4 linked regions of the Homo sapiens genome follow. The protein of the gene in region 1 purifies or fractionates together with the protein of each later gene. This does not show direct contact. Each region holds a gene or a part of one and is shown in the gene's direction. Other genes may lie near its edges.

What was found.
Region 2: the proteins of GUCY1B1 (region 1) and UACA purify together in Homo sapiens (affinity purification with mass spectrometry; 2 studies listed by BioGRID and IntAct, with this or other methods). This does not show direct contact.
Region 3: the proteins of GUCY1B1 (region 1) and MXRA7 purify together in Homo sapiens (affinity purification with mass spectrometry; 2 studies listed by BioGRID and IntAct, with this or other methods). This does not show direct contact.
Region 4: the proteins of GUCY1B1 (region 1) and MYCBP2 purify together in Homo sapiens (affinity purification with mass spectrometry; 2 studies listed by BioGRID and IntAct, with this or other methods). This does not show direct contact.

What each region holds. Positions count from the first base shown.
Region 1 is NC_000004.12:155,803,432-155,808,760, forward strand, and holds the end of GUCY1B1 (guanylate cyclase soluble subunit beta-1), read left to right. Parts: intron 1-192; coding exon 193-333; intron 334-1,161; coding exon 1,162-1,316; intron 1,317-1,671; coding exon 1,672-1,798; intron 1,799-2,954; coding exon 2,955-2,978; 3' UTR 2,979-4,380; downstream 4,381-5,329. UniProt on the Homo sapiens protein: Mediates responses to nitric oxide (NO) by catalyzing the biosynthesis of the signaling molecule cGMP.
Region 2 is NC_000015.10:70,759,945-70,767,791, reverse strand, and holds the start of UACA (uveal autoantigen with coiled-coil domains and ankyrin repeats), read left to right. Parts: upstream 1-4,233; 5' UTR 4,234-4,384; coding exon 4,385-4,462; intron 4,463-7,847. UniProt on the Homo sapiens protein: Regulates APAF1 expression and plays an important role in the regulation of stress-induced apoptosis. Promotes apoptosis by regulating three pathways, apoptosome up-regulation, LGALS3/galectin-3 down-regulation and NF-kappa-B inactivation.
Region 3 is NC_000017.11:76,707,390-76,716,383, reverse strand, and holds the start of MXRA7 (matrix-remodeling-associated protein 7), read left to right. Parts: upstream 1-5,418; 5' UTR 5,419-5,437; coding exon 5,438-5,779; intron 5,780-6,825; exon of another isoform or gene 6,826-6,886; intron 6,887-8,994.
Region 4 is NC_000013.11:77,092,356-77,100,393, reverse strand, and holds part of MYCBP2 (E3 ubiquitin-protein ligase MYCBP2), read left to right. Parts: intron 1-1,380; coding exon 1,381-3,024; intron 3,025-3,912; coding exon 3,913-4,082; intron 4,083-4,791; coding exon 4,792-5,036; intron 5,037-7,061; coding exon 7,062-7,229; intron 7,230-8,038. UniProt on the Homo sapiens protein: Atypical E3 ubiquitin-protein ligase which specifically mediates ubiquitination of threonine and serine residues on target proteins, instead of ubiquitinating lysine residues.

The sequences.
Region 1 (5,329 bases):
TGTGTGTAAATTATAAGTAATTGCAAGGTTTCATTTTGTTGGAGTTGAATATATTAGAATTTTAAGAGAATTAAAGGGGGAGGGAAGCTTAAAGTTGCTGGTAGACTTGAAAAAATATGTTTTTTGTTAGGGTAATAAATGAAACAGTCTTTTTTATGCTAACCGTGAACATCTAAATATATGTACTGTTAGGTGGAGACTGTTGGTGACAAGTATATGACAGTGAGTGGTTTACCAGAGCCATGCATTCACCATGCACGATCCATCTGCCACCTGGCCTTGGACATGATGGAAATTGCTGGCCAGGTTCAAGTAGATGGTGAATCTGTTCAGGTTAGTAAATGAAGTAGATATTGTAATAATGGTATGTAAACCTTTTTGGACAATTGATTCATATCGTTGTCCGGAAAATCATTAACGTGTATAAAGAAGGGCATCTTGACAACAAAGACTATAGCATTTCATCCAGCCCACTGTACTACATTCTTTCATAGACATGGAGATTTATCTACCTGTTTGAAATTATCTAGTCCGTTTCATGTACTGAAAGTCATGGGGATGAGAAAAAAACCTCTTGTACCTTCTAGTTTATTTTTTAAAACCTCTTTCATGTCTCATGTAAGTTACTAGATTCACATCTTTGAAATCTTCAGACTTCAAATGTTTCTCTTGAGATAGGATATTTCCCTGGGGAGATAGAGATTTCATGGAGGGCTTTTGAAGTTGTCCATAATATGCTTGAAATTCTTATAGACATCTCTTACGATGTTATATGATGACTCTACATTATTCTGTAATATAAAGTAAGCAAAAATTCATGTGTTACAGGAACAGAAAACCAAACACCACATGTTCTCACTCATAAGTTGGAGCTGAACAATGAGAACACATGGACACAAGGAGGGGAACATCACACACCGGGACCTGTTGGGAGTTTGGGGGCAAGGGGAGGGAGAGCATTAGGACAAATACCTAATACGTGCGGGGCTTAAAACCTAGATAATGGGTTGATAGGTGCAGCAAACCACCATGGCACATATATACCTATGTAACAAACCTGCACCTTCTGCACCTGTATGCCAGAACTTAAAGTAAAATAAAAAAAAAAAAATTCATGTGTTAGTGATCAAAATGATTGAAGCAAAGCTTTCTTTTTTGCAGATAACAATAGGGATACACACTGGAGAGGTAGTTACAGGTGTCATAGGACAGCGGATGCCTCGATACTGTCTTTTTGGGAATACTGTCAACCTCACAAGCCGAACAGAAACCACAGGAGAAAAGGGAAAAATAAATGTGTCTGAATATACATACAGGTGAGAGAAAATGTCTTGGTATTTACTGATTTGCAAAGAAAATGTGTCTTTGCATGTGGTTTAATTCTCTGAGAGATTTTGTTGCTTTAACAGAGTTATCACCTTCACTCTTCCCCACTGCTTGTAGAGTTGTTTACTTTTTATTTGAGAAGATTGTGTCATTATTTCCATTTTATATGATTTCACATCATCTTAGGAAATCCTGATATGATCATTGTTTCTAAAGCTTTGAGTTACCTTTCAGTACAACTTCAGCATTTGTTCTTGCCATCTTGGTTTATAACATGATACATGTCACCTTCTCTATAAAACTTGTGTATACTTCTCTCTCTACTCCCCTTCCCTTGTCTTTTAGATGTCTTATGTCTCCAGAAAATTCAGATCCACAATTCCACTTGGAGCACAGAGGCCCAGTGTCCATGAAGGGCAAAAAAGAACCAATGCAAGTTTGGTTTCTATCCAGAAAAAATACAGGAACAGAGGTATGACTAATCAAAGTGTAATTTGCGTACTTAAGACAGAGTATAAGTATGGAAAACTAAAGCAAAATCACTGAAAATGTATTTCATTTGAAAAGAATTCTTGCTAACAGAAATTAACTTCTAAGTAAAGCAGTGGAAATAATTGAACATTAATGAGCCAATTACAATCATAAGTACTTTTTAGGGGATACTTTAGTGATTTTTGTCCTCTAATGAAATGAAAACCAACAGACTGGATTGAGAAGGCTGCTTTTTTTCTTGCTGTTGTGGTTGTTTTGCTCTTCCTCTGTAGTCTGGCTCAAAGGTAAGTGGGCTGTGAGGGGCTCCCCTGACCCCTTTCCTCAGCTCTCTAAGTTGGCTCTGAGATCACCACAGATAAGGGCTGTGGTTCATGGGAGGTTTCTTAACCATGAAGCTTAAGATCCTTTTAAGGGGCAGGCTATCTTTCTATGGAGTGATTGGGGAATTTTGGAAATCCTAGTCCCTCATGTGTTTCTCCTAGATAGATGAGTGATTTTTAACTTGCTAGAATCTGATTAATTCCTTAGGGAAGATTTAAGTTCTTTCTACTACTATGGTTATACTCCAGGCAGAGCCCATGTGCTAGAATGGACTTCAGAACAGTGGCACATCCAAAGTGGAATCACACCTCTCATAGAGGCCTTGCACACACTAAGATCATGGCTAGCCTCTTCCTAGCCTTTTGTAAGGAGTGGCATCAGAAGCAAGTTTGATACTTTGTTACCCTGTTGATGTGTTGTTTCCTCATGGGGGATAAGACTGCATGCTCATATTTCTCTTTTAGTGTGTATAAACTCTCTAAAGATGCTTTTAGGGCATAACAACTTCTAAAGGGAATAGAATGCCAGGGTTTGAAATATTTATCTTCTTTCACCTGGTTTAACATTAAATCATTTTCCTATGAGGTGGACATGCTTATTGATGTTCTTCTGATAAACTAAGCCGTAATTACCTCAAACATTGGTCATCTTAGTCGTGCGGTCCTGTTTTTCCCAGAATTATGGTGGGAATGATTTACAGAAACTGTAGATGTGAACGTGGATCACACTCTCATAAAGAGAAAAATATATTTAATTGATATTATAAACCTCACTATCACTGTAAATCAATCCCTCTTTTCTTCTGCCTATTTAAGGAAACAAAGCAGGATGATGACTGAATCTTGGATTATGGGGTGAAGAGGAGTACAGACTAGGTTCCAGTTTTCTCCTAACACGTGCCAAGCCCAGGAGCAGTTCTTCCCTATGGATACAGATTTTCTTTTGTCCTTGTCCATTACCCCAAGACTTTCTTCTAGATATATCTCTCACTATCCGTTATTCAACCTTAGCTCTGCTTTCTATTACTTTTTAGGCTTTAGTATATTATCTAAAGTTTGGCTTTTGATGTGGATGATGTGAGCTTCATGTGTCTTAAAATCTACTACAAGCATTACCTAACATGGTGATCTGCAAGTAGTAGGCACCCAATAAATATTTGTTGAATTTAGTTAAATGAAACTGAACAGTGTTTGGCCATGTGTATATTTATATCATGTTTACCAAATCTGTTTAGTGTTCCACATATATGTATATGTATATTTTAATGACTATAATGTAATAAAGTTTATATCATGTTGGTGTATATCATTATAGAAATCATTTTCTAAAGGAGTGAATTCTAAGTTTTAGGGGAAAAAATGCAATTTATTTTCAGACTCCCAAAGTAAGAATTAACATATCATGCTAAGAAAATAGTGACTATTTTGAAGTATGCTACTTCCCTTTCAGAAATATAGAATACACGTTTCTGTTATTAAAGTATTTGATTACTAATTCAAATCATATGGCAATTATAATTCTTCTAAAATGCTATCATTTGTAACTGTATCCCCTGTATTAAATCTCATTAACCACAGGCAGCTGTTACAGAAAGCTGCATTGTTTCACATTGAGCTGTTACATTAGTTCAGGCTAAATGTTGGGAGCTCCAACCACATCCAAGAATAAATCTGGAAACACACTGCTGGGATACTGCTGTTAGAGCCCTTCTTGGCCTTGTATTCCCAGAAATGAGCTCCCTTTCCTTAGCTTAGAAGAATGTGATTATATCCAGGACATCATGTTCAGAAAACTTAGTTTACTTTCAGCATAGAATGCATTACTGTTGGAATAATTGGCCTCTAGCTCTTAAATGTCTCTGATAACTTATTAATATCTATCTTTATAAAATAGAGTGCAACTACTTTTGTGTAAAAATGTTTGCCTTTAAATTTAGTATTTCATATCAGCACATCGATATATGTATAAATGTTCCATGTTAATGTGTAAAAGAGTCTGTAATAAATTATTTTTTTCACGTGTCTCTATACAGTTTTTATTTCAATAAAAATATTAACATTATTTTTCATTTTATTAATGCCATTATTTTGTAAATACATTTTACAATTTTGCCTATTTGCTACCATTATAAATTTTCACTGACTCCTCATAGACAGCATATTCTTAAATGCTATATTTCTTTTTAATACCAACAGAGTGACAGGAAATAAAGACTGGGCATGGAAAGGGGAAACAGTTAAATATTGAATGTCATCAGCTTATTTAAAGAGCTCTGAATCATTTAGGGATGATAGACATGTATACAAGTAATGAAAATATGCGATATTCATAATGAAGAAATATATTCAAATGCAGAAATAATACTTAGAGAAAGAGTAACTTGAAAGAAAAGAGGTGAAGTGGGGATAGTTGTTATGCTTATTTTGGGGGGAGAGTTAGGAATACTCAGAAACTACATTGACACTGTCATCTTCCCAGAATCCTGCATATATTTATTTAGCATCTACTTTGGGTAGGTACTGCTCAAGATATTTGAGAAATGTCATTGAACAAAACATCTCTGCCTTTGAATACCTCATATTCCAATTTTTACATCTTGCATGTTTTTAAATCTCTACTTTATTCCGCCAACACTCTTCGAAGTCCAGGCACTCATCATGTGTAACTTGAACAATTGCAAGATCTTCCCTATAAATCTGTCTATTTCCTACCTTTGCCACCTCCATTCCACACTCTCAAATTGCTGCCAGAGTGGTCTTTTACAAATCCAAATTGCTCTCCTGCGTACAATCACTTAAATGCTACTCATTGTCTGTACACCTTAGCAAAGCATGTAAACATTGTCACCTTAACCAGCCTTATCTGCTAGTTGCTACCTTTGTAATTCTATGCTCTGCTCTGTCTGAATACCCTCTACCCATACTCTGCTGCAAATTCATTTCTTGCTAAGACTCAGCTCAATATCCTCTTGTTGGAAATTTCCCTGTTAGGAAAGTTTAGCTTCCCCTATTGTCCCAGGATCTTTACAATGGTTCACATATTATCTGTTTATATATAGGATTCCTTATTAGGCTTTAAGTTTCTTATGGCTAAATTAGTTCCTCTTACACCAGATATTCCTTGAACCTTCCACAAAATAGGCACTTGACAAATATTTGTTGAACAAAGGAATGGAGGGAGCAGCCTCTTC
Region 2 (7,847 bases), on another chromosome or scaffold:
CCCCTTCATGAAATTATTCACTGGCTTTGTTCACTGGGTCCCCAGGGCTACTCGGAGCAGCAAGAAGTTCTGAAAATGAAGAGGGAAGTCATTGGATATAGAATTCATAACTAAAGCTTGTCTGGAAGGAGATCTTTATGTTTGAAAAGGACTCATTTTATGTGCAAATTTTAGACTTTGTATGTCAATTCTTTTTTTTTTTTTGAGATGAAGTCTTGCTCTATCACCCAGGCTGGAGTGCAGTGGCGTTATTCTGGCTCGCTGCAACCTCTGCCTCCTGGGTTCAAGCGATTCTCCTGCCTCAGCCTCCCCAGTAGCTGGGATTACAGGCTTCCACCACCACGCCCAGCTAATTTTTGTATTTTAGTAGAGATGGGGTTTCACCATGTTCACCAGGCTGGTCTCAAACTCCTGACCTCAAGTGATCTGTCCACTTTGGCCTCCCAAAGTCCTGGAATTACAGTTGTGAGCCACCATGCCCGGCCTGTGTGTGGATTCTTTTTTTTATTGTTGTTGTTTTTGTTTTTGTTTTTTGTTTTTTTTTTTTTTTTTGAGATGGAGTCTTGCTCTGTCGCTCAGGCCGGAGTGCAGTGGCGCCATCTCGGCTCACTGCAAGCTCCACCTCCCAGGTTCACGCCATTCTCCTGCCTCAGCCTCCAGAGTAGCTGGGACTACAGGTGCCTGCCACCACGCCTGGCTAATTTTTTGTATTTTTAGTGGAGACGGGGTTTCACCATATTAGCCAGGATTGTCTCGATCTCCTGACCCCGTGATCCACCCGCCTCGGCCTTCCAAAGTGCTGGGATTACAGGTGTGAGCCACTGTGCCCGGCCCTCTGTGTGGATTCTTTATTCTTCTTCTGAGAAATCATATTTGTCATCGTTTTTGCCGTTATCATCATCTGAGTTATCAGTGAGCATCTGTCGACTGTGTTCTCTTCCCTGTTCTGGCAGGTCCCCTGGGTATCCTCTGCCCATCTGGTATTACTTCTCACCTGTTGGTATTCATTGAATGGATACTCAACCTTGGATAGCCTCCCTTCAGGCAAACTTATCTGTTGATCTTTTCCTTCCCTAAATACCATCTGCAATCTTACTACACGATTCAGTAAGCGATTGTCCAGTTAAACTGTATGTGTTAGCATACAGCTTACACATTTGTTATCTAATCCAGAACACAAGTTCCTTGACAGCAGGGATCAAAATAGGGGTGGTAAGCAGATCAACTTGCTCCATTTGTATTATTTGAGATTACCATGTGTATATATAATCTAGTAAAGTAATTTTAAAAAATGCATTACCCTTCCTGGTATATATTGTAAATAAATAAATATTGGAAAAAAAAAAGAAGTAAAACAAAAAAATATTTTATATAGGCTCAGTGTGATAACAAACAAAAGGTCATCTAGGTTTGATAAGTGCCCTTTGCTCTGAAGGGAAGATAAAAATAAATAATAGTGATAAGAGTTAACAAAATAAAACCCAACCTGTCTGGTTGAATGCTAATAATAGTGACTTTACTTCATATAGGCAGCTTCCAGATCAATGTAAAAAAGCTTTACTGAATATTCAGACCAGTGCTATTTACTTAGCTGCTCTCAAATGGGAATAAGCAGACATCAGCTATCAAGTTTCTAGGCTGGAAAAATCCATAAAGGCCACTGGACACAGACACCATGGGGACATCATCCAGACAGTTCATAAAAATAACTTGCCCAACATTTTTGGAACCTGATGCAAGCTATACTTGTGGTTCTGTCTGTTTCCTTTGCTTTATCCAGTAACAACAGAAAAGGAGGCCAGTCACCAGGACTATGATAACTTGGATGTTACAGGAGACAACCAGTACAACATAACACTGCAATTAATAACTCAAGAGCCAATTACTGAGACAGTGCTCTTGTAAGCAATTAACATTTAAGATTCAGTCAGAGGACTAGATGGTAAATGGGTGCTTATCTTAAGCCCAGAGAAAGGAGTTGATTGAGACACAAATATTTGAGCAGGACCATAGCCTCAGATCATTCCATCTGTGTTCACAATAGGGGGAATCCCAATCCTGTGTCACATAAATACATAGAACAAACAACCATAATTTGCTATAGTAGTCAATAAGAATGCATCAATTCATTCAGAAATATTTATTAAACACCTATAACATGCTAAGCATTCTAGGGAATTCAAATATATGTCAGTTATTCCCCAATTTTAAGTAAATTGAAGTCCAGTAATGAAATAAGGTTTGCTCAGCTCATATGTGTTAGTATCATATGAGAGGTATAATTGCTGTAACTATTTGGAGGATGGAGAGATCACTTCCAGTTACTTGATCAGGGAAGGTTCTATAGAGAGGAGGGCACTTGGAAGGGACATACACTTAAAAACAAACTTTTTGTTAAAGCATAACACACACATAAAAGAGAATATATTGCATACAGTACAGGCTCATTGAATTTTCACAATCTGAAAACACTAGATATGTAACCAGCACCCACAGAGAATAGTACAGTATTCCAGAAGCCCCCGACATCCCCTACCAATCACTCTTGGGGGAGTAGGATTTTCTGAGATGAATGTAGACAGACAGAAGATTATTGGGGGAGGGATCAGTATGCATAAAGATGTGGAAGTTGAAAGCCATGACCCATGTTTGGAGAATGGGCTGAAGAGTAATTCGCTTGGGGTGTTGGCTAGAGAACAGGGTCGCGTCCACGTTATACAGCTTTAAATGCAAAGAATTAGATTTTATTCGTTAGCTGCTGAAGGCTTTTGAGCAAGAGGAGTATTTTTGTAAGACTTATTGATGATGGCTGATAATTTATTGGTGATGGGACAATTAAGAGACTGAAGGTTGGGAGACTGGCTGGGAAGCTTCTGTAATAATAGTCCGGGTATGAGGTAATTTTGGCTCTGCAGTGGCAGTGAGAACAGAGTAACTGACCATACACAGACACTTTAAAGAGCCAACAAGAACTAAATGACTGGAGATCTAGAGGAAGGGGGAGGAATCAAAGAAAATTTTCTTCCAAAGATCTAATCAAGATGAAATTTAATAATATTTTTGGGTAGTTAGTTGTTATTTACTTGTTGTATAGGGTTAACACAGTCTTTGAATGCTGCCTCTCCAAGAAATTCTGAAAACTTTCTTACAGTATTTGAAGAAAACCTTGCGTTACTATAAAGAAACTCTAAAGAGAGCAACTGACCTTTCAGACAAAAAAGAGTCCTTTGTTAGTCAGAAAATGTGGACCGTTTGTCTTTTCAAATGGATGCATGCTACGATAAACGTTTTGCTGGGGGGAAAAATGACTCCAAAGAAGACTTTTGAAGATGTCACCCGAACAGCAAATTATTGGGTGCTGAGCACCTTCCTGTTTCTTCATCCTCTTAAATAATTTTTACTAACCCAGATTTCTAGGTAAGATGATTTAACTTCATCGTATACGTTTACATGTAATGTGTTTCTACAGAAAACAAAAAACCTTTTTGAAGAAAAAAGGGCGTAACTTTTTTTGACAACTTAAATCACTGGCTGTGGGAGTCATTTTTAATTGATGGCACCTCTTCTCCTCCCTCCCCGCCCCCATTCCGTCCCTTTGCTTCCAATACGGCGGATTCTTCACTCAACAAATAAACGAGCACGTAACTTGTACTGTAACTTACTATAACGTCTTTCAAGGTCTTTCTTAACTGTACGTTTTTCTGCACAATCAGCACCTTATTTCTTAGAGACTGTTTATTTCTGGAATTTTTGATGCGTGTGGTGGTTTCCAGGCACCAGGATTTGGTAGTAAAACAGGAGACTGAAAAGAAGTTGCTCCTGAAAGCTGTTCTGTGTGCAGGTAACCAAGAGTCATTTCTAAGACCAGACGGAAGGGAAGGAACTTTACTTGGTAAAGAGCGCGTGGGTGGAAAGAGGAGGGGAGTCCGGGAAGATGAGAGGTGGCAAAGGCGGGACCCCGTGCTCTCTCTAGATCTTAAGCTCCGGGTGGGCGGGCGCCGGTGGCCTGGAGCCCGGCCTGCGCGCATCTCCACGCCTCTGGCCGCCCACCTCCTCCGCCCCTTCCCGGGCTAAAGTTCCCAAACTTTTCCTCCAGCTGGGAGAGGAAGGGTGTTACTCAGTTTAAAAGGGAAGTCCCGCCCCATTCCCGCATTCCGATTGGTCGCGGTTTGCCACGCCCCCGCCAGGGCAGCGGGTCAATTGGCTACGGGAGGGGAGCCCCGCCTCAGGCCTGTCGACGTCTGCTGCCCGGGGCCCGCAGGTGGCAGGCAGGTGGGGCTGGTACAGCCCGCGCCGCCTCTGCTGCAGCCGCTGCCGTCTACTCCTTGCGCGCTGGCACTCCGCAGCCTTTAAGGTTCGCGCGGGGGCCAGGCAAGAGTTAGCCATGAAGAGCCTCAAGTCCCGCCTGAGGAGGCAGGACGTGCCCGGCCCCGCGTCGTCTGGCGCCGCCGCCGCCAGCGCGGTGAGTCCCGCGGTCCGGGCTGCGAGGCGCTCCGCTCCGGGAGCAGCGCAGCCCTCCTTTGCTGGCGAGTTCGCGCGCCGCCTTCCTCTGCTTTTCCTCTGCCAGTTCGGCTTCGGCGGCCCTGGCGACTCCTCCCTGAGGCCGGAGACTCCGTCAGCCCAGAGACCCCGGGGATCCTCCCCGCCGCCGCACCCGAGCCTCTACGGGTCTCTTCCCCACCCCTTTCTCCCAAGCCTCCGAACTTCTGGAAGAAACCTCAGTGGGGCGGTTCTGGCCCCCTCCTCCTAAATCCAAAGTTCCTCGATTGGCACCCCTACTCCGCTCTTTCCGTTGACCCCCCCTCGTCGCTCTCCTCTCCCGGCGCTCGCCCTGCTGCCCACGCCCGCTCGGCCGTGTTGGCTCCCCAGTCCCCGGGGCCGGGGCTCGCACCAGGTAGGGCAGGTGGGCAGGGCTGCGCACCCCGCGCCACCGTGCCCGGACTCCGGACCTTCCCCGGGTCTGAGACAGCGTCAAGCCCTGCCGGGCTGGTGGACGTCCCGTGCTGGCCGCTGTCGTTGTCACTGGGAAGTTTGATTCCCCAGCGAGGCAGAGGGAATCGGCTTAGTCGTAAAGACAAAACCCCACAGGGTGGTGACCCTAGAGGTGGTGAAGTTGGGAGGGGTGGTGGTGATGTGGGTTGTGTAAATCGCACCTGTGGGGCGGGATCCGTGCGGGGCTCTTTCGGTGCTGACCTGCAGCGCGGCCTCAGTGTGCGCGCCAAGGAGTAGTCGGGGCCTCTTTAGTTGGCAGGAGAACAGAAATCTTGAGAAACAGCCTGACCGCAGATGTTGTGATTTAGATAATTTGTCACGTTACAAGAATGGCGATATCATCAAAATTCTATATCATTAAAATAAGTGCCACTTACAAAGTCTTGGAAGAGTCGAACGTAAAGGAGTTGTTATGCTCCAACTGCACAGTTACCTAGTTGGGGTAATTAAAATGAACCTTTACAATTCAACGCAGATTTTACCAAATGATTATATTCTTTTTATCAGAATACTAATTAATCTGCTTCTGCTTTTTTGAGTTAATTCAGTTATGCCTTTCTCTCCACCTATATCGAGGATTATTTTACTTGGACATAAAGGAAATTGTGGAGGAACTACCTAGACTTAAATTCCTATTTCAAAAAAAGAGAGTAGATTCAGATGACGTAATTGATGTTCTTTGATAAAGCATGAAGTCGTTTTATAAGCTCATGGAAAACAGAGATTACTTTGTTTCACTTTTTTTTTTAAAAAAAGTAACTGGCAGAAATGTCATTTAGTGATATTGGAGTTCATTACAGTTAAGATTCTACTTCTGTAATGCAAGTTGTGTTTTTAGCCTTATAGAAGATACAAGTTTCTAGATTTATTAGCTTTGTTTTCCCTGGTTGTGTTTGATTTGCACTAAGGATGTAAATCCCACTTGGAGGTTTATATGCCTTAATTTTATCCAGTTTTCTAGAAATGCAGAGTATTTAGTAGGTATTATCAGCATGATAGTTTGCATTTTATACATTTGGAACATAAAGTGCATATCTCTGAGCTTAAATCTTTAGCACTCAATTGAGCGTTCTATTTTTCTCAAAATGACATAATAAAGATAAACATGATATTAACCTATTTATGTAGAAAAAGCAAACATTTCTGTTTAAATATTAGAATAAGTTCTGTACAATTTAAAAATAAAAGCGTAATGAGGAATAAAACTTAGAATGAATTCTGTAAAATTTTAAAATAAAACTGTAGTGATGAATAAAACCAAACCAAGCATTGATAGAATAAAACACATGTACAGGAGAAATAGACCCTTTCTGCTTTTCAATCTATAAACCATAATCCCAGATTTGGTCACATGTATATGTATTTATTGTATGATTGGGCCACCCTTTTTTTTTTTCTTTTTGCCTTTAAAAACAGTTATTTTTTGAATAGGTAATATAGCACATGGTTTAATATTGGAAAGGAATAAAAATATTTACAACAAAATATCGACACCGTGTTTCCCTAACCCCTGCTTCAGCCACCCTGCCCCCACTTCCTGAGGCCACTGATGATACAGTTGCTTGCATGTTCCTCCAGAGAGAGCTTAGCATATACAAGCAAATATGAATATAGTCACCCTTTATAGAAATGCTAGCACACTGTAGCTGCTGTTTCATATCTTGGACTTTTTTTTTTAAAACTGTAAATAGAGGCTCCCCATTCATATCTTTTGCTGTAATGTACAATTCTGTGATTAATATTCATATTTCAAGTGTGTGTCTGTACCTGTAGGATTAATTCCTAAAAGTGAATTGCTGGGTTAAAGGATATGTGCATTTGTAATTTTGAAGGATGTTGTCAAGTTTCCTTTCATGCATCATGGAACCAGCATATGAGAAATGTTTTCCAAGCTTTTAATAGAAGTCTGTTCAAAGTTTTTGACCTTTGCTAGCCTGATAGGTAAGAACAGTTTATCCTTTCCATTTTTCTTTTTCTGTTTTTTTTTTTTTTTTGAGACGGAGTCTCGCTCGGTCGCCAGGCTGGAGTGCAATGGGACCATCTTGGCTCATTGCAACCTCCGCCTCCCAGGTTCAAGTGATTCTCCTGCCTCAGCCTCCTGAGTAGCTGGGACTACAGGCGTGCACCACCACGCCAGGCTAATTTTTGTATTTTTAGTAGAGACAGGGTTTCACCATGTTGTCCAGGATGGTCTCAATCTCTTGACCTTGTGATCCACCCGCCTCGGCCTCCCAAAGTGCTGGGATTACAGGCGTGAGCCACTGCGCCTGGCCTGTCCTTTCCATTTTTCTATTGGGTTGTCGATATTTTTCCCTATTCATTTGTATATACTTTATATCAGGGAAATTAGCCCTTTTCATTTGAATAATATTATTTCTTAATTGGCTGTTTGTCTTAAGACATTTTTATGGTGGCATTTGCTGTGCAGAGAAGGTGGTTATTTTTATACAATTGAATTTATAACCTTTTATGATTTTTAGGTTTATGTAATATCTTGGCCTTTCCACTCTGCGATATTTAATATTAAACAACCCCCCTCCCCAACTTTCTTCTAGTTTTTTTTCTTTTTTTACATTTAAGTCTTTGATACATAAGATACTTATTATGGTGTTAAAGTACATCTTACTTTCTTCTCTTTCCTCTATGGGTACTTAATTTGGGTCTTAAACTGTTCATTTAATTATTTTGGAAATAGTCACTATTTACTTTGCACAACTTTGATTTGAGATAAAATTTTAAAATGTTTATTTCATAAATAATTTCCTTTGTGTATTTAAGCTTATTATCTGAAGAAGACACAGCAGTAGACTGAGGTATGTGACATATGCAGTATTTTATTACATAATATGTGGAAT
Region 3 (8,994 bases), on another chromosome or scaffold:
TGTGATCCTTGTAACGTCTTGTGTCTGTTACCTCACGGATGTCGGTAAGGAGTTTCCACAGAGCCAGCTGTGTACCACAGAGACTGAGAGTGGTGAGTGGACTTTGTGAGCCAATTATGTGTCGGAAGGACTTGGAGTCTGCCCTTCTTCCTGTATGTCATCATCAGCCCACAAATGCATTCAGTGGCAGTGACCCAGCACCATCACCATCACCCACTGCTCAGTCTGTCTTAGGATTCCTTATCTTTTTCTCCATCATCATAGAGACTGAAATTTCAGGGGTGTTTTTGTACAGTGTATTTTTTTGTGGGGGGGTGATACATTGGGGTTTTTTGTTTGCATAGAGTGGGAACGGTGTGCAATGTGCTCTTACCACAGAACTTAAAGTATGAATAGGCTCCATTCTTCCGCACCATGGGATCCATAAGAAGTGCTCACTTTGCGAGGTACTCTGAGATTAGCGTTCCCCATTTGTTTGACCTACAGACGTTAAGTGGGTGACTTGTGTTACACACGGGGAGTAAATTCAGAGATGGCACCTGTAGTCTTTGCAGTCTGTTGATACTTCTAAATAACTAACTGGATGACTTTTTGGGGATTGACCAGCAGATGCCATCTCTTGCCCTCTTGATTCACCTGCTTGCCTTAATTTGTCCCTAAATTCAACTAAACTTCAATAAGAGGGGTTGTCAAGGCCATGGGGCGCACTTGGAAGCACTGCCTGGGCTGGAGCGTTGGAGGCATTGGCAGGCAGGTGGGAAGGAGCTCTCACTGCAGTGTTCACAGGCAGGGAGGCTGTGTGTGGATGTGTTAGAATTGTGTGCTGTTGCCTCTCAAAATATCCACTAGAAACAGGTGTAACCAGGAAAATACAGGTCTCTGCTCACTGTTATTAACAGACTGTCATTTCCTGACATTGGGTCATGTGGCTTTACTCTAGGAGGCTGGTTCTCTATTTTTGTCTTAGTTCAATTTTCTGCATCCTCAAATGCCAACCCCAGTATGTGGCTGGGTAGGTAGAACTGTGCTGCCTGCCTGCCATGGGGGCTGCTCTCCCTCCTTACCCCCACGCCCACAGCCCCCTTGGTTCTGTGGTGGGCACAGGATGTGTTTGGGTGTGAGTAAAGTCAAACTCTGAATGTATAATCTCTTGGTAGTAATATCTGAGTGGTGTTGCTACTCCTGCTTTTTAAAAAGACTTTTCTTGCCATCTATAAAAAGCTTTTTTCTTTTTCCCAGCATTGCTCCTGTGCTGCCACGCTTGCCCTTTTTCCTTACCTTCCTTTCAGTTTTCTATCAACAACTCCTCTAAACTTCAGTTTAAAATAAAAAACAGCCCAAAAAGGCTCTTTGCCACCAGGGGGCGTGGTAGGACACGTTGCCAGTGGTCTGGATAGGGGAGCAGAAATTTTGAATTTTAAAAATTAGCCACCAAGGCCAGGTGCAGTGGCTCACACCTGTAATCCCAGCACTTTGGGAAGCTGAGGCAGGGGGATTGCTTGAGTCCAGGAGTTCAAGACCAGTCTGGGCAACATAGTGAGATCCCATCTCTCAAAAAAATAATAATCTAGAAAATAAAGATTAGCCACCCAGTTTTCTTTCTCCAGATGCTAAAGTTGATTCCTGTTTGATAACAGTATTCCAGAAATGAGGGGAATAACATATCTGATAGGCCCAAGTCAGCTCTGGATAGTACAGTGTCTGGATAGTACAGATTCTGTGCTCCTGGGACATGCTTTGTTTATTCCTGCCAGGCCAGGGATTCAGCAGCCCTATTCCCCAACCCCCGTTACTGTCTCTGTGGGCTAGCCAGGCTGTCCGTTATGTAAGCACAACAGGGGCAAGGTGGGGAAACCGTGTGTGGAAAAGGAGTGGAGTGGTGGCGGGTGGCCAAGGTAGACTAGGAAGAGTGGGTACCCAGAGACCACTTGTTCAGAAGTTAACTCCTCTTCCCATCTGGCGTGAGCTACTCCATTGAATGGTGCCAACAACAGTAAAGTGAAGGAGATAATGTTAGATTATTTTCAGGGATGATTCTCCAAGATGACAGCAGATCTTAAAACCAAAGAGCTGGGTCCTGGAAGAAGGGATCTTGGATTATTAACTTCTGATGGAAGGACCAGAGTGGGAGAGAGAAGAGTTGGGGACCTAGAACATCAGGAGGACCCTGGGTCTTTGGGGATGAGGCTTCACCATCAGCTGGAAGAATCCATGCTTCACACACATGCCTCTGCCATTAGTGGTACTGGGATGTTTAGGGTGACATCCTTGAGGGGAGAGCCACTGAAAAGAGGGACATTCACATTTTGCTGTATTCTTGCAGCTGTCCGTGTCTTAATAATTCAAGCGTTCAATAGGTGTTTGAGGGCCAGGCACTGCTCTTGAGGTGCTGGAGATAACGGTGACAAGCCCAGGTCCCTGACAAGCTCCACAAGCTTAATGGACAGTGAATGTGCGGCTGTTGCGGCTGTTCACAGGGCCGCTGGTGAGGGCAGGTAGAAGAAAGTGCAGACCTTCTTAAATGCAGGTGTAACGGATCTACATGAAAGAGCATAATTAACACCAATGTATACTTAAGGTAGTAACAGCTTCTTCATAAAGTAGCAAAACTAAGGATCTGTGGGAAGGTTGCTGGTGCAAATGCTTTATAAGCTTACTAGAGACTGAGCCTTGGATTTAGGACTTTAGACGAGTATAGGATGGAACAAAATTTTTGCAGTAAATGTAAAAAATGCTGTGTAGGAGGAAGGCGTATAAGGATGCCCCAGCTGTAGGTTCTTTAGATTGTCTGTAGTATTTCCACGAGTAAGTTGTTTTTGATGTGTGTACTGGTATTGCTGGTAGATTTGAAGTGGAGTCTGGCGGCTTCTTCCACACTCCCCTCCCACTAGCTTGTGTCAAGATGTGACATCCTATGCAGCAAAACTAGGTGAGCTTGCACCCCCAGGCGGTGGCTCTCAACTTTGTCTCATTGTTCAGAAATTTCGGCCAGGCGCCGTAGCTCACCCCTGTAATCCCAGCACTTTGGGAGGCCATGGCAGGTGGATCACTTGAGGTCAGGAGTTCAAGACCAGCCTGGCCAACACGGTGAAACCCCGTCTCTACTAAAAATACAAAAATTAGCCAGGTGTGGTGGCACATGCCTGTAGTCCCAGCTACTTGGTCAACTCAGGCAGGAGAATCACTTGAACCCAGGAGGCAGAGGTTGCAGTGAGCTGAGATCAAGCCACTCCAGCCTGGGTGACAGACCGAGACTCTGTCTTTAAAAAAAAAGAAATGTCATCTAAGCCCCAGTGAACCTCCTGGGAGGAGAGCTAGCCCTGGCCAGCTGTCTCCAAAGTGACTGGATGCTACAGAAGAACTGGGACTGTCTTCTGCACACTCGTGCCTCCTGGAGTTGTCAGAACACTGAGCAGTCTCCTAGTTCTGCGTCCGTCTAGCCATGGGGTCTGCCATGAAAGCCTGTGGATCTGCTATTGGGTTGGTATTTTAAACTTTCACTTGGGTGAAACTTGTTCATCATTTTAAATAAAGCAACATGATTTGGAGTTGTGTTTTTGGCATTGTTTTGTCCTTATTTTCTTTCTTACTCATTTGAAAGTCAACAATGTACTTTGTCAGCAGAACAGGACTTTAAAAAAATGTATTTACACTTTAAAACAATGGGATGGAGCACAAAATTAAGGCCCTGGGCCAGGAGCATTGATGCACACCTGTAATCCCAGCTGCCCAAGAGGCTAAGGCAGGAGGATCACTTGAGCCCAGGATGTCGAGGCTGCAGAAAGCTATGATCATGCCTGTGAATAGCCACTGCACTCCAGCCTGGGCAACATAGTGAGACCCTGTCTCTTTAAAAAAAAAAAAAGAAAGAAAGACCCTGTCTCTTTAAAAAAAAAAAAAAAAAATTGGCTGGGCGCGGAGGCTCACGCCTGTAATCCCAACACTTTGGGAGGCTGAGGCAGGCAGATTGCCTGAGGTCAGGAGTTCAAGACCAGTCTGGCCAACACGGTGAAACCCTGTCTACTAAAAACAGAAAAAAATTAGCCGGGCATGGTGGTGGGCGCCTGTAATCCCAGCTACTCAGGAGGCTGAGGTGGGAGTTTCGCTTGAACCCGGGAGGTGGAGGTTGCAGTGAGCCGCGATTGCGCCACTGCACTCCAGCCTGGGCAACAGAATAAGACTCCATCTCAAAAGAAAAAAAATAGGCCCATACACTGGCTGAAACTTCCACAGTGGTTAAAAGCTAGTCGCCCGTAGATAAAGCCTATTTCACATTTTATAGTTTATAGGCTCTTTTCATCAACCACCACTAAAAGGAAGTGCATGGCCCGCTTAATATCGTGCAGTGCAGCAGAATTCAGCTCTCCCTGTTGCTGAGGGGTCTCGTTTGTGTATCTTCATTTAAAAAGAAGCACTCCATCTAATATCTGGTTTATATCACAGATCAGCTCAGGCACTGTAATATTCCCAAAAAAGTATTAAAGGCATCCTCAGCAAAAACTGGAACCGTGTTTTTTTTAACATTAGGCCTTATGTTTGGCGTGATACCTGACATGCCCGTCCTGTGTTTATTTAAAATAACTAAAGAGTGGGTGGGGAGTGGTAGGAAAGTATGTTTTTGGTTACAACGTGTTTATCTCAAAATCCACTGTTCAGCAACAGAGGCCTGGGAGGATCTGGAGAAACAAAAACAATAGCCTTCATTTCCTTCATTGTACCCTCCCACCCTGCATGCATTCTGGAATTGTGCAAAGAAGAAAGTCTGGTAAGAGGAATAGCGTTGACCAAGGACCTGCAGCTGAATTTCAGGTCTAGGGGCGGGGGAGCCATGTTACTGTTAACAGGGAGGCCTGTGTTGAAGGCTGCTGGCCTCAGCTCCGAAGGGAGCATTCACTGGCCGGGATCTGGAGATGTCCTCTGTGAAAGTGCATTAAGGCAACCCTGAGGATTAAAAGCAACTCCTGACATGCCTATAAAAACGGCAGTGGCTGAACGTAATCCGGCATTATGATTGCTTTACAAGCCAATCCAGGCTGCCGTTTCCATGAAGCTTCCCGGGTTTGCTTGTCTCTCTGCATTCCCACATTTCCAAAATGCTCTAAGACGAACCGCCGTACTAAGGCCAAAGATGACAACCTAAGGGCACCTCATACAGTATTTCAAATTGAACCTGAGCTAAATTGTGCCCCAAAGCGTCAAGGCTGCCCAGGCCGGGCAGGGGTTGGCCCTCCTGTGCCTCCCAGGTGGTCAGGGCTCTGCCCCCTCAACACCCCCGCCCGCAGCCTGTGCGTCACCCTCCCGGGGCCGGAGGGGGCGGGGGCGGGGCGCGGCGATGGGGGCTCCGCCCCGAGGCGGGGCGCGGCGACCGGGCGCGGCGACGGGGCGCGGCGGGCTCCCTCGGGGTCCCAGCTGGCCCGCACTCGGCGGCCGCGGCGCGATGGAGGCGCCGGCCGAGCTACTGGCCGCGCTGCCTGCGCTGGCCACCGCGCTGGCCCTTCTGCTCGCCTGGCTACTGGTGCGGCGTGGGGCGGCCGCGAGCCCGGAGCCTGCCCGCGCGCCCCCGGAACCCGCGCCCCCGGCCGAGGCCACCGGGGCCCCGGCGCCGTCCCGCCCCTGCGCCCCCGAGCCGGCGGCCTCGCCCGCGGGGCCGGAGGAGCCTGGAGAGCCCGCGGGGCTGGGGGAGCTCGGGGAGCCTGCGGGACCGGGGGAGCCCGAAGGGCCAGGGGATCCCGCGGCGGCGCCAGCGGAGGCGGAGGAGCAGGCGGTGGAGGCGAGGCAGGTACGCACCGGGGCCCTCGCGGCCCCCTCCCCACCCCCGGGGCTCCGGCTGCCGCTGCCGTTCCCCGCCGAGCCAGGGAGCGGGGCCGCGGCCTCCAGCCCAGGCTGCCCCCAGGAAGCGCAGAACCCGCGGCCCGCAGGAAATGCAGGTCCCGCCATGCTAAGCCGCAGCCCCGCAAACTCGCCGCCCTCCCCCAGAAAGTGTGGCGAGGGGCGAGCCCGAAGGAGTTTGTTTGGAGGTGTTTTGCTCTCCCCTCCCCTCGGCCTCTCCCAGCCCAGGGCGTGCTCCGCAGCTGCTGGCTCCCAGGCCTCGGGACCAGGGCTTGGAATTTTGCTCCTCACCCACTTCTGACCCCTCCCGCCCACCGGTTCCCAAATCCACGTGCCTGTGGCTTATTTCCAGGCCTGCCATGAGAGTTATCTTGATGTTTAAAAAGTAGGACTTTCGGGGGGCGAGGGAGGAAAGCTGGCTTTTCTTTTTCAGCCAATTTGAAGTCCAGATTTCAGAGTCAGTGCTGTGGCGTTTTGTGAAGCCCGTGGGCTGGGACTGAAAGAAAAGGCACCCGATCCCAGCAGTCCTTTTTATTGTCGTTTTCAAGCTACACATCTAACACCCTCCTACCCCCACTCCCCCGGGTTGTAGGTAAGCTGGGCCTGGATGGAGTGAAGATGCAGGATAAAGCCCTCCTGGAGCACCAGTGAGCACCCCAAAGCGGCCCTCCCTGCCTCTGCCCCAGGCCTCCCGCCATGCTGTCCATCAGCTCGGCCTTGGCCACCTTGTCCTGCCTGTGGATATCTGAGAGGAGTCGGATTTCCCTCATCCACTCATCCCAGCCCCTACACTGTGTGCCCATGTTCCCTGGAGTTCACCACGCTTGGCCGGTCCAGGCCACCGCCAGGGTCTCCGAGTCGGATTGTAATCCCTTGTTCTTACCCCTGAGCTCCTTTTCTTGGAAGGGAGGAGAGCCGGGATGCGCATTGTCAGCGTGCCTGCGTGTCTGCGTGCCCACTCTGTCCTGTGCTGGACACAATGGTTTACCCTGGAGAGAAGCCCTTCGGGGGAGGAGGAGGCAGCCAGGCTGTGCTCAGAGGCATTTCTCTTTGCTGAGTAAGTGCGCCAGACCCCCTCTGAGCAGGCGCTTTGCTTGACAAGTGGGTGACTAATTGTGTCATTAGAGAGGATTCTAACCAGCCACATTTAATGGGGTGGAGCAGGGGCAGGCCCTGCCGTTCTTGCTTGGGGTGGGCTTCCAGACCTCACGCGGTGATGGTGGAGGGGGCGCGGTTTGGACATGTGCTGATCTGTTGTGTTTGCTCCCATATTTGGGATTCCTGCCTCCATCGAGGTCTCGCGGGAGCAGGAGAGGCCTTTAGACAGTTCTGGAGCCGTCATGCACACTCAGTCAGTCCTGGCCTTACAGGGCTGGCCCTTTATCACCCACACCAGGCTCTGGACTGAAGTGCAAAATGTCCTTTAGCGGCGCCCTGTCTTAGCTCAATCCTGTGGGGCACAGCGCTTAAAGAACTTTCTACAAGGCTTTCGGCTCTCAGCACATGGTACCTACAGGAATAGGTTCAGTGGTGTTTAAATAGGGCCACTCGCATAATTTGCCACTGTCTGGGTGAATGCACGTCCTCTGAAGCTGAATGGGTGCTCTGAAGGACAAGGCAGTATGGGGGTTCGCGTGCCAGGCAGCCCCCATGACATAGGTGCCAGTGAGGATGACTTGAGGCTTGTGTCTGTCCTCCCGCTAAGGCACCCTCCAGAGAGAACCCACCCCACAGGAGAATTCAATTGAAGTCAGTGCCCTTCCCCTTTGGGTTCAAGTCCCCAGGCCTTCCTGAGCTGGCCAAAGCTCCCCCAAAACTCCTGCCTGCAAACATTAAGCCAGGTGCTGTGGGGACACAGATATTGTGTCATCCCACCCACTCCCAGTGGTGGCATTAACCTAAGAAGCTGCTTAGAAATTGTCTTGATGAGCTTCGAGTCAGTGACAAGAAAAAAAAGAAAGGAAAACAAATTGTCCTGAAGTGGACTCCAGCGTTTCCAAGAGCTTCCAGTGCTTTCTTCTGATGATCACACTGCTGGGGCTTGGAGGACAGATAGGGAGAAAGGCCCCCTGGGGAAGATAACTCAAATCAGGGTTGGGAAGTGGGGCTATGCCCTCTGCCAGCCTCCTTCTCCCTCCGTCCCTAAGCGAACCCCACCAACAGCGAGGGAGGAGGGCAACTCCACCTGCTGTTAGCTCGGAAGTCACTGCCCTGGGGAGCAGCGTGTAACTCACCTCTCCCCTCCCTCTTCATTTTCCATTAACTGCCTCCTTTCTAATCCAGTCCTCTCCCTTCCCAGGGAGGCCTGGGCGGGCTGGGGCAGCTGCTGCCTCTGACTACAAAGCTGATTATTGAGAAGGATCTCTCGCCCCGGGAAGCAGCCTTCAGCTGCTATTGGGGATCGCTCAGGAGCGTCCCCTAGTGCACGGTGCCCTCTTTGGCCAAGGACAAAGTAGTGGGGAGGGGCTACTATAGGCCGAGACCCTGGAAATGGACCAAAGAAATGGGGATGAGATCAGTGCAGCTCTTGCTTCCCCAGGGCAGCACAGGCCAGGGCAGGGAGGCTGAGGAGAAGCGGAATGATACTGCTAGAACCTCTTTTCTCTCCTAAGGATTAGCACAGGGTGGGCTGTGAGGAAGCATTATAGGCAAGGCCTGTTCACGCAAAGAATCATGAGCCAACGAAGTCAAGAACAGGAGCCGGCCTCTTTTCAGGCCAGGACTCAGGGCTTTCTTGGTGCTCCTGTGTAGGTTGGGGTTTTAGGATTGCCAGGCCTCTTACCTAATGGACTTGTGGATTGGAGCAAGGCTGGATGGTCGGATTCCCAAACATTGGTAATTGGCAAAGCGTCAAGGGTCATTTGAATAGCACTAGAGTTAAATTTCTTGTCTGTGCCAGGACTCAAGTATCTCGGTACTTGGGGCCTAGCTCTGCTCATAGACAGACTAGAGCCCGGGCGCGATGGCTCACACCTGTAATCCCAGCACTTTGGGAGGCCGAGGCAGGAGGATCACCTGAGGTCAGGAGTTCGAGACCAACCTGGCCAACATGGCGAAACCCCGTCTCTACTAAAAATACAGAAATTAGCCAGGCATGGTGGCGTGCACGTCATCCCATCTACTCAGGAAACTGAGGCAGGAGAATCACTTGAACCCAGGAGGCTG
Region 4 (8,038 bases), on another chromosome or scaffold:
CTGGATTCATTCTTGGTATTACATCAGTGAAGAGTAACAGACAAAAATACCTGCCCTTGACAAAGACTGGGGCAGATTCTCCAGCACTACTGTCCTGAGCCATAGAGAAATAGAGCGTGACTATACACACTTAACACATGCACGGAAGCATAAAAAACATTTTCCTACATCATCTGAATTTGTTCACATCCTTTTTTCTTTTAAAAAATAATAACATGCAGTTATAGCCAGTTAACAAATCTACCTTAATTTCCTAGGAACTGTCTTTGAAAAAATATAAATACTTCCAGATAGGTTTATGGATTTTCAGTTTTTTATACCACTTGAAACCCTTCAGTCAGATTGCTTTTCTCCTAACAACTAACTGGTATCACTTGCACTAAGAGTAGAAGTTTTTATTTTAAGGAGGAAAGGTGATGTTGAAGTTTGTACCATTTACTTGGGTCACAGACAGCCTGGCTCTAATGCCTCAAAGAAAAGCATAAAATAGAATGAAGGAGAGACACTGAATGAAGGCAGGGTGCTAAAAACAATTAATGTCCATGCAGAAACATCTAATGCTTTGCCTTAGAAAAGGGAGGTGATTCTTCTTTTCATCCTGTTTTTCTGTCATTCTCCTGACTCCTTGTTTTGAGGGTCCACAGTTCAGACTTTTACCACTCATTCTGAGGATCCACCGTTTCTGTGGTTTCCAAGGGAACACAGGCTCTGAGTTCTAAGCAGCTAAGCTTCCTGAACTTTTGGAGTGTAACCTGTTTATAAATAATTAAATAACAGCTTCAGGGCATTCATGTGCTCATTGTAAACTAGTCTAATCTGATCATAAAACAGAGTGCCTCTTAAGCAACTCTTTGTTAGCCTAATTGTATGCATACACTTAAAAATTATAATTGTGTCTATGCATAAATTCAGTTCTCTAATTCAACAAAACCCATACCGTTGCCCTAAGGATGCGAGGTATCACTCTGCTGGAAATTTAGCTCTACTCTACATTTAAAATACAAGTTTTCACATTAAATAATTTCTTATTCCCCAAAAGATTAATTTCTGTCTCTTTCTAGTCCCTCACTGAATTTAAATTCTAACTAGTTATTGCACTAGGGCAGAGGTTGAGATATCACTGATAGTTCACACTGGATTTGTTCAACCTGTTGTTTTGCGTCCATGAAAATAGTTTTTGGTGGTAATGTTGTGTAATGATGTGTAGAAATTTTATTAGAAATATTTCCCCCTTCTTTCCTTTATTCTTCAAGTATTTTAGTATGTATGACAAACAATATAAATTTTGTAGCTATGTTTTTTTATTTCAGTGTTTAGTGGCTAAATTATCAGTAAGTTATAATTTTATTAATAAGTTTCACTGTAAAATGGACCATACAGGTGATCGAGGAAACATCTCAACATCTTCTAAACCAGCCTCTACATCAGGAAAATCAGAGCTGTCCTCTAAACACAGCAGATCGCTTAAACCTGATGGACGTATGAGCCGGACTACTGCTGATCAGAAGAAGCCAAGGGGCACAGAAAGTTTATCTGCTAGTGAATCCCTCATCTTAAAATCTGATGCTGCAAAGTTGAGGTCAGATTCCCACAGTAGGTCATTATCCCCCAACCATAACACCTTGCAGACATTGAAATCTGATGGGAGGATGCCTTCTAGCTCCAGAGCTGAATCCCCAGGACCAGGTTCTCGGTTGTCATCTCCTAAGCCAAAGACTCTCCCAGCCAATAGGTCTAGCCCATCGGGTGCTAGTTCTCCACGCTCCTCCTCACCACATGATAAAAATCTACCTCAAAAAAGTACTGCTCCTGTTAAGACAAAGCTTGATCCTCCTCGGGAACGTTCTAAATCAGACTCTTACACACTTGATCCAGATACCCTCCGCAAGAAGAAAATGCCCCTCACAGAACCTTTGAGAGGACGGTCAACGTCACCAAAACCAAAATCAGTACCAAAGGATTCTACAGATTCCCCTGGATCTGAAAATAGAGCTCCCTCTCCCCATGTGGTACAGGAAAACCTCCACAGTGAGGTGGTCGAAGTCTGCACCTCAAGTACTTTAAAAACAAATAGTCTAACAGACAGCACCTGCGATGACAGCAGTGAATTTAAGAGTGTGGATGAAGGTTCAAATAAAGTTCATTTTAGCATTGGAAAAGCACCACTGAAAGATGAACAGGAAATGAGAGCATCTCCCAAAATAAGTCGAAAATGTGCTAATAGACACACCAGGCCCAAAAAAGAAAAATCGAGTTTTCTTTTCAAAGGAGATGGATCCAAGCCTTTAGAGCCAGCCAAGCAAGCCATGTCTCCTTCTGTGGCCGAATGTGCCAGAGCTGTGTTTGCTTCCTTCCTCTGGCATGAAGGCATAGTACATGATGCAATGGCTTGTTCTTCTTTCCTAAAGTTTCATCCTGAACTTTCCAAAGAACATGCTCCTATAAGGAGTAGTTTAAATAGCCAACAACCTACAGAGGAAAAAGAAACCAAGTTAAAAAATAGACATTCATTAGAAATATCATCTGCACTGAATATGTTTAATATTGCACCCCATGGACCAGATATATCTAAGATGGGTAGCATCAACAAAAACAAGGTATTGTCTATGCTTAAGGAACCACCTCTGCATGAAAAATGTGAGGATGGGAAAACCGAGACCACTTTTGAAATGTCCATGCATAACACAATGAAGTCTAAGTCTCCTCTTCCCTTAACTTTACAACATTTAGTGGCTTTTTGGGAAGACATCTCTTTGGCTACTATCAAAGCTGCTTCCCAGAATATGATTTTTCCAAGTCCTGGTTCCTGTGCAGTTCTTAAAAAGAAAGAGTGTGAGAAAGAGAATAAGAAGTCCAAAAAGGAAAAAAAGAAAAAAGAAAAGGCAGAAGTTAGGCCCAGGGGTAATTTGTTTGGAGAGATGGCCCAGCTGGCAGTAGGAGGACCAGAGAAAGATACCATCTGTGAACTGTGTGGGGAGTCACATCCATACCCGGTGACCTATCACATGAGACAAGCTCACCCAGGTAAATGATACTGTTGAATGTACGTATAAGTGCTTTTTTCTTTAATGAACCAGATCACTTTATTTGAGCTGTTCTATGAATTTTGTCAAAGGATAGGGAATTTATAGTATCTTAGAATGTCATTTTTAAAGTACATTATCAGTACAGGGTTTTGTGAAAAACAGATAAATTCTAATATTATGATGGCCAGGTCATTTAGTGCTATTTCACTTTCATGTAGCATGTTTTAAAAAATATTATGTGTTACCCAAAGGGTGTGCCATTAATGTGTCTGTCTCACACAGCAGAAACAGTGGCATGCCCATACACACAGGGCATCTCCTTTGATTTTACTATTTTCCTGTTCAGAATTGCAAATTAAATTAGATTAGATTGATTTCTATAGGCTTTTTCCTACGGAAGTGATATTGTTTTATCAGAAGACTGCATTTTCAGTAAATGTAATGATTTCTGTAACATTGACTAATATTCCAAATTCACCTAATACAAATTTGGTTAATTTTTTTCTTTGTCTACATATTATACCTCAAATGTCTTATGAATATGTGATTTCTGAAAATATATCATTGTTATAGAACTTTTATACTTGTATTGTCTAATTTTATTGACATAATTAAGTATATCTAAATATACCTATATTCTATCTCTCTTTTAATATGCCTGATTAGAAACTAAGTATCTCTCATATTTGGGGCATCATTTAATTGATTGCTTTTTGATCAAGTAAGCTATTTTTCTGATATAGTTAATAGCCTGAAAAATAAGATATCTACTTCAGTATTTTGCTTTCTTTGAGAAGGTAAATCTGTCATTAATGTATGAGTAATAAGGATCAAACTATTAAGGACACTTGGAGTGTTAAATATTTATTTTTGGTATTGTTTCAAGGTTGTGGCCGATATGCTGGTGGACAAGGTTACAATAGCATTGGGCATTTTTGTGGAGGATGGGCTGGTAACTGTGGTGATGGTGGCATAGGAGGAAGCACTTGGTATCTGGTATGTGATCGCTGTAGAGAAAAATACCTCCGCGAAAAACAGGCTGCTGCAAGGGAGAAGGTATTTTATTCCATTTGGAGCTATACTTTTAATGATATGGATACACTGTATAAAAATACCTTGTTATAATCTTACTACATCAGATAATTCCACATAGTTGATATTAAAAGATCAGCTTTTATAATGGAAATCATATACAAATTTAATATTTGTACTAAGTCAAATGCTTTTAATTTTAAAAATTAACTATATATTGGAATAACACTAGATAACCTCTGCTACATATGCCTTATTGACAAATATTTGTTGTGTAACTCTTTATTATTAATTGTCTGTTATTCTCTCTATGGAGAGCTTTCCTTTTCACCTTCTTTCTCTTTTCCTCTTTTTTTGGCTCCTTTGTTTTCCTATTCCATATCTACTCTCTCTTTTCTTTATTCACTCTAGTGGCACCTAACTAAAAAATTTCACTGAATACACGCACTGAAATGATTTACTTTTTAAAAAAATGAATTACATTTAGATTTAACTAGTTAGGTGTTAAATTTTTCTGAAGAAGGAAAGGAAGTATAGTTTGTGTTTGATACAAAATTGTCTTGGTCAGCCCAGGATGAATATGAAATGAATGTTGTTTTTTATAATCTTATTATCTTAAAATAGCTTTACAAGTGTTTAATAATTTTTATTGGAAACTCAAAATACTTAGCTTAAGAAACTAAGGATTTTAATGTAAGTCAGAAAAGATTAGTTTGATTTTTTTCTTCGCCAGGTCAAACAATCTAGGAGAAAACCAATGCAAGTCAAGACCCCTCGTGCCTTGCCCACCATGGAAGCTCACCAGGTGATTAAAGCCAATGCACTCTTCCTGCTGTCCCTGAGCAGTGCAGCAGAACCGAGCATTCTGTGTTACCATCCTGCAAAGCCATTCCAATCTCAGTTGCCCAGTGTAAAAGAAGGCATTTCTGAGGATCTTCCTGTGAAAATGCCTTGTCTCTACCTGCAGACATTAGCTAGGTAATAAAATTTTGCTGTTGTTTTTTAATCACCTTTGGATTAACAGCGATTGTTTATTGATATCTAGGGTAGTTCGGTATTTGACCTACACTTTATTAGCTATTGTGTACTATAAACAAACTTCCAGGCATTTATTTTTTGAGTTGCCTTGACTGACATAATGACTTTATGGTAATAGGTATTTAAAAAACTATAAAAATGCTTCATCAATTTGCATTGTATTAATACACAACATGTCTTAGAAAATAAGACTATAGCTATCTTTTACTCTTTGGTAGGCTGACTTCACTCTGTTAGTGCGAAATGCTGAAGTGTAAAGAAAGTGTGTTTCCTTAGCAGTCTTTTATTTCGTAAATTATTCATTCTGTTAGCATTTAAATGAATACCAACTGGGCACCTACCAGCCTTGTGCTAGGCCCTGAATGTATGAATATAACAAAATCCTGGCTTCTATGTACTCATACTCGGATGTCAAGTCAGACATGTTAGTGAAACATTTGAAATGCCATGTGAGGAGTGCTACAATAGAAGTATGTATGTAAGATGCTGTTAGAGCATAAAAGATGGAGAGTATCTGAATCTTCCCCAGGAAATCAGAAAAGGCTTCCCAGAGGGTCTGAGCCTTTAGTAGAGTCTCAAAGGATAAATAGAAATCTGTCAGGCAAGCGACAGGAAGAAAGCGACTCTTGGAAGAATAACCCAGGTGAGTAAAGACACAAATGAAATCTCATTACACATTTCAGGAATCACGGGTTGTTAAAGGACTGGCTACTGGAGGAAATATGTGAAAGCCCGTTCAAAGTGATTGGTTCACCCAAGTAATGTCGGGCTCTGTAGCCCAGGTTAAGATTGCATTTTATCCCATGAGCAGAGGAAACAGTGGAAGAATTTTAAACAGAGAAATACATGAACTGGTTTGCAATTAAAAAATCACTGTGGAATGTGGAAGCTAATGTGGAGACTAGATAAAAGTGCATTACTGGAGATAGAAACCTGTTAGTATTCTGTTTTCATATATTGGACCTCAGTGGTGCAGCCTGTACTTTCACACATCATGCACTGACACTCCAAAAGAGCCTTTCATATACCAAAACCAAATTTTTTTCATCAGCTGACAAATGAAGGTAATCTAGATATTGCCCACTGACATGGCTTGCCGACCAACAGTTCCATTTTGGAAATTGTCCTCTTTGTGTAGCAGAGTTGTATGGTTTTTAAAATTTTGTGCTTACTATTACAATAAAATGAATAAGCAACAAAAATGAAAATATCAGACTAAGTACATTTGAGACTGAGGTGGAAATCATCAGTATGCCAAAATACAATAGATCTTTAGTGTGAATCACACCACTCAGTGGACTTAGGTTAGCAACTATTTGTTCATTTTGAAAAGGAAAGAATCAAATTGTAAAACGTGAAAAATGCTAACACAGCATAATTATAGATTTTTTTCTTTTTAGCTGTCTGGGGAATGGGCACCCCTTCCACCCTGAACCACAGAAAATTTCATATATCTAATATTTTTCAAATATGATCTTATGTATGTTCCTACCCAAAAAAGTAACTGCTTGTATTTCAGTGGTCTGTGCAAGAAATAATAAGCATGAACCAAGGCAGTGATGATAGGGAATGAGAAGAGAGAATGGCTCTGAGAGGAAACCTAATATCATGGGCTTGAAAGATGATGATGATAGAGGGCTAAGCCTACTACAACACTGGAAATATTTTAGCTTAAGCAACTGGATGGTTGGTGGGCTTATTCACCAAAACACTGGAAGATGGAAAAGTTCTCAAAAGGAAAGAAACTGAGTTCAATTTTGGATTTGAAATGTTCGTGGTACCTGGAATGTTGATGAATAAAATTATCAGACTTTTATTTTCACCTACCTACATCTACGATTATTTTAATGCTTTGCCTTTAACTATGATTTACATGTGCTGCTTTTCCTGTTATGAAAGAGATTAAAAATGGAGAGGATCTGTATTGCCATCATGCTTTAAGTTATTGGGTTTGATTTAATGCAGGCATCATCATGAAAATTTTGTGGGCTATCAAGATGACAATCTATTCCAGGATGAAATGAGATATCTACGTTCAACATCTGTACCTGCCCCGTATATATCAGTAACTCCTGATGCAAGTCCTAATGTATTTGAAGAGCCAGAGAGCAATATGAAGTCTATGCCACCAAGGTATTTTAGTTCTCTCCTGTCTGTTGAATAGCTAGTGTTTGGTGGAAGAAAGACTTTGAACTAGAAAAGAGTCCTGTAGAAGTTCTTTAATACATCTGTGAGCCAGTTTTGCTAACTGCTGGAGCAGTAAGAAAAAGCATACATGTATGACTAAGGTAAGGTCCTTGATGGGAGAGGCAGACTAGTTGGAGAGAAGAGATCAACTAGTGAAGGAATTAAAGATTACATTATATGACATTACTTAATGCTGTAGTAAATCAGAGTAGGGAAGGGTTACTTTGAGTTTTCATGGGAGCAGTGGCATTGAAAATAAATCTTAAACTTCTTGGATTATTGTTTACAGTGCCTCCTAACTTAGGTATGGTAGTATCAGAGTAAAGAGCTTCTCGGAAAGCTGAATAGAAACTTGTTACAATAATGTAATACACAAGAAAATAGAGGCCAGGCGCTGTGGCTCACACCTGTAATCCCAGCACTTTGGGAGGCCAAGGCGGGTGGATCACCTGAGGTCAGGAGTTTGAGACCAGCCTGACCAACATGGTGAAACCCTGTCTTTACTAAAAATACAAAAAATTAGCCGAGCATGGTGACACACACCTGTAATCCCAGCTACTCGGGAGGCTGAGGCAGGAGAATTACTTGAACCTGGGAGGCAGAGGTTGCAGTGAGCTGAGATTGCACCACTGAACTCCAGCTTGAGGAAAAAAAAAAATAGAGTACCACTGAAACTTTTTTAGAGGACGAATGATGTGATAAAAATGCAAAGGTAGTCTCACAGTGACAATTGAGAAGCTGACATATGGATTAAA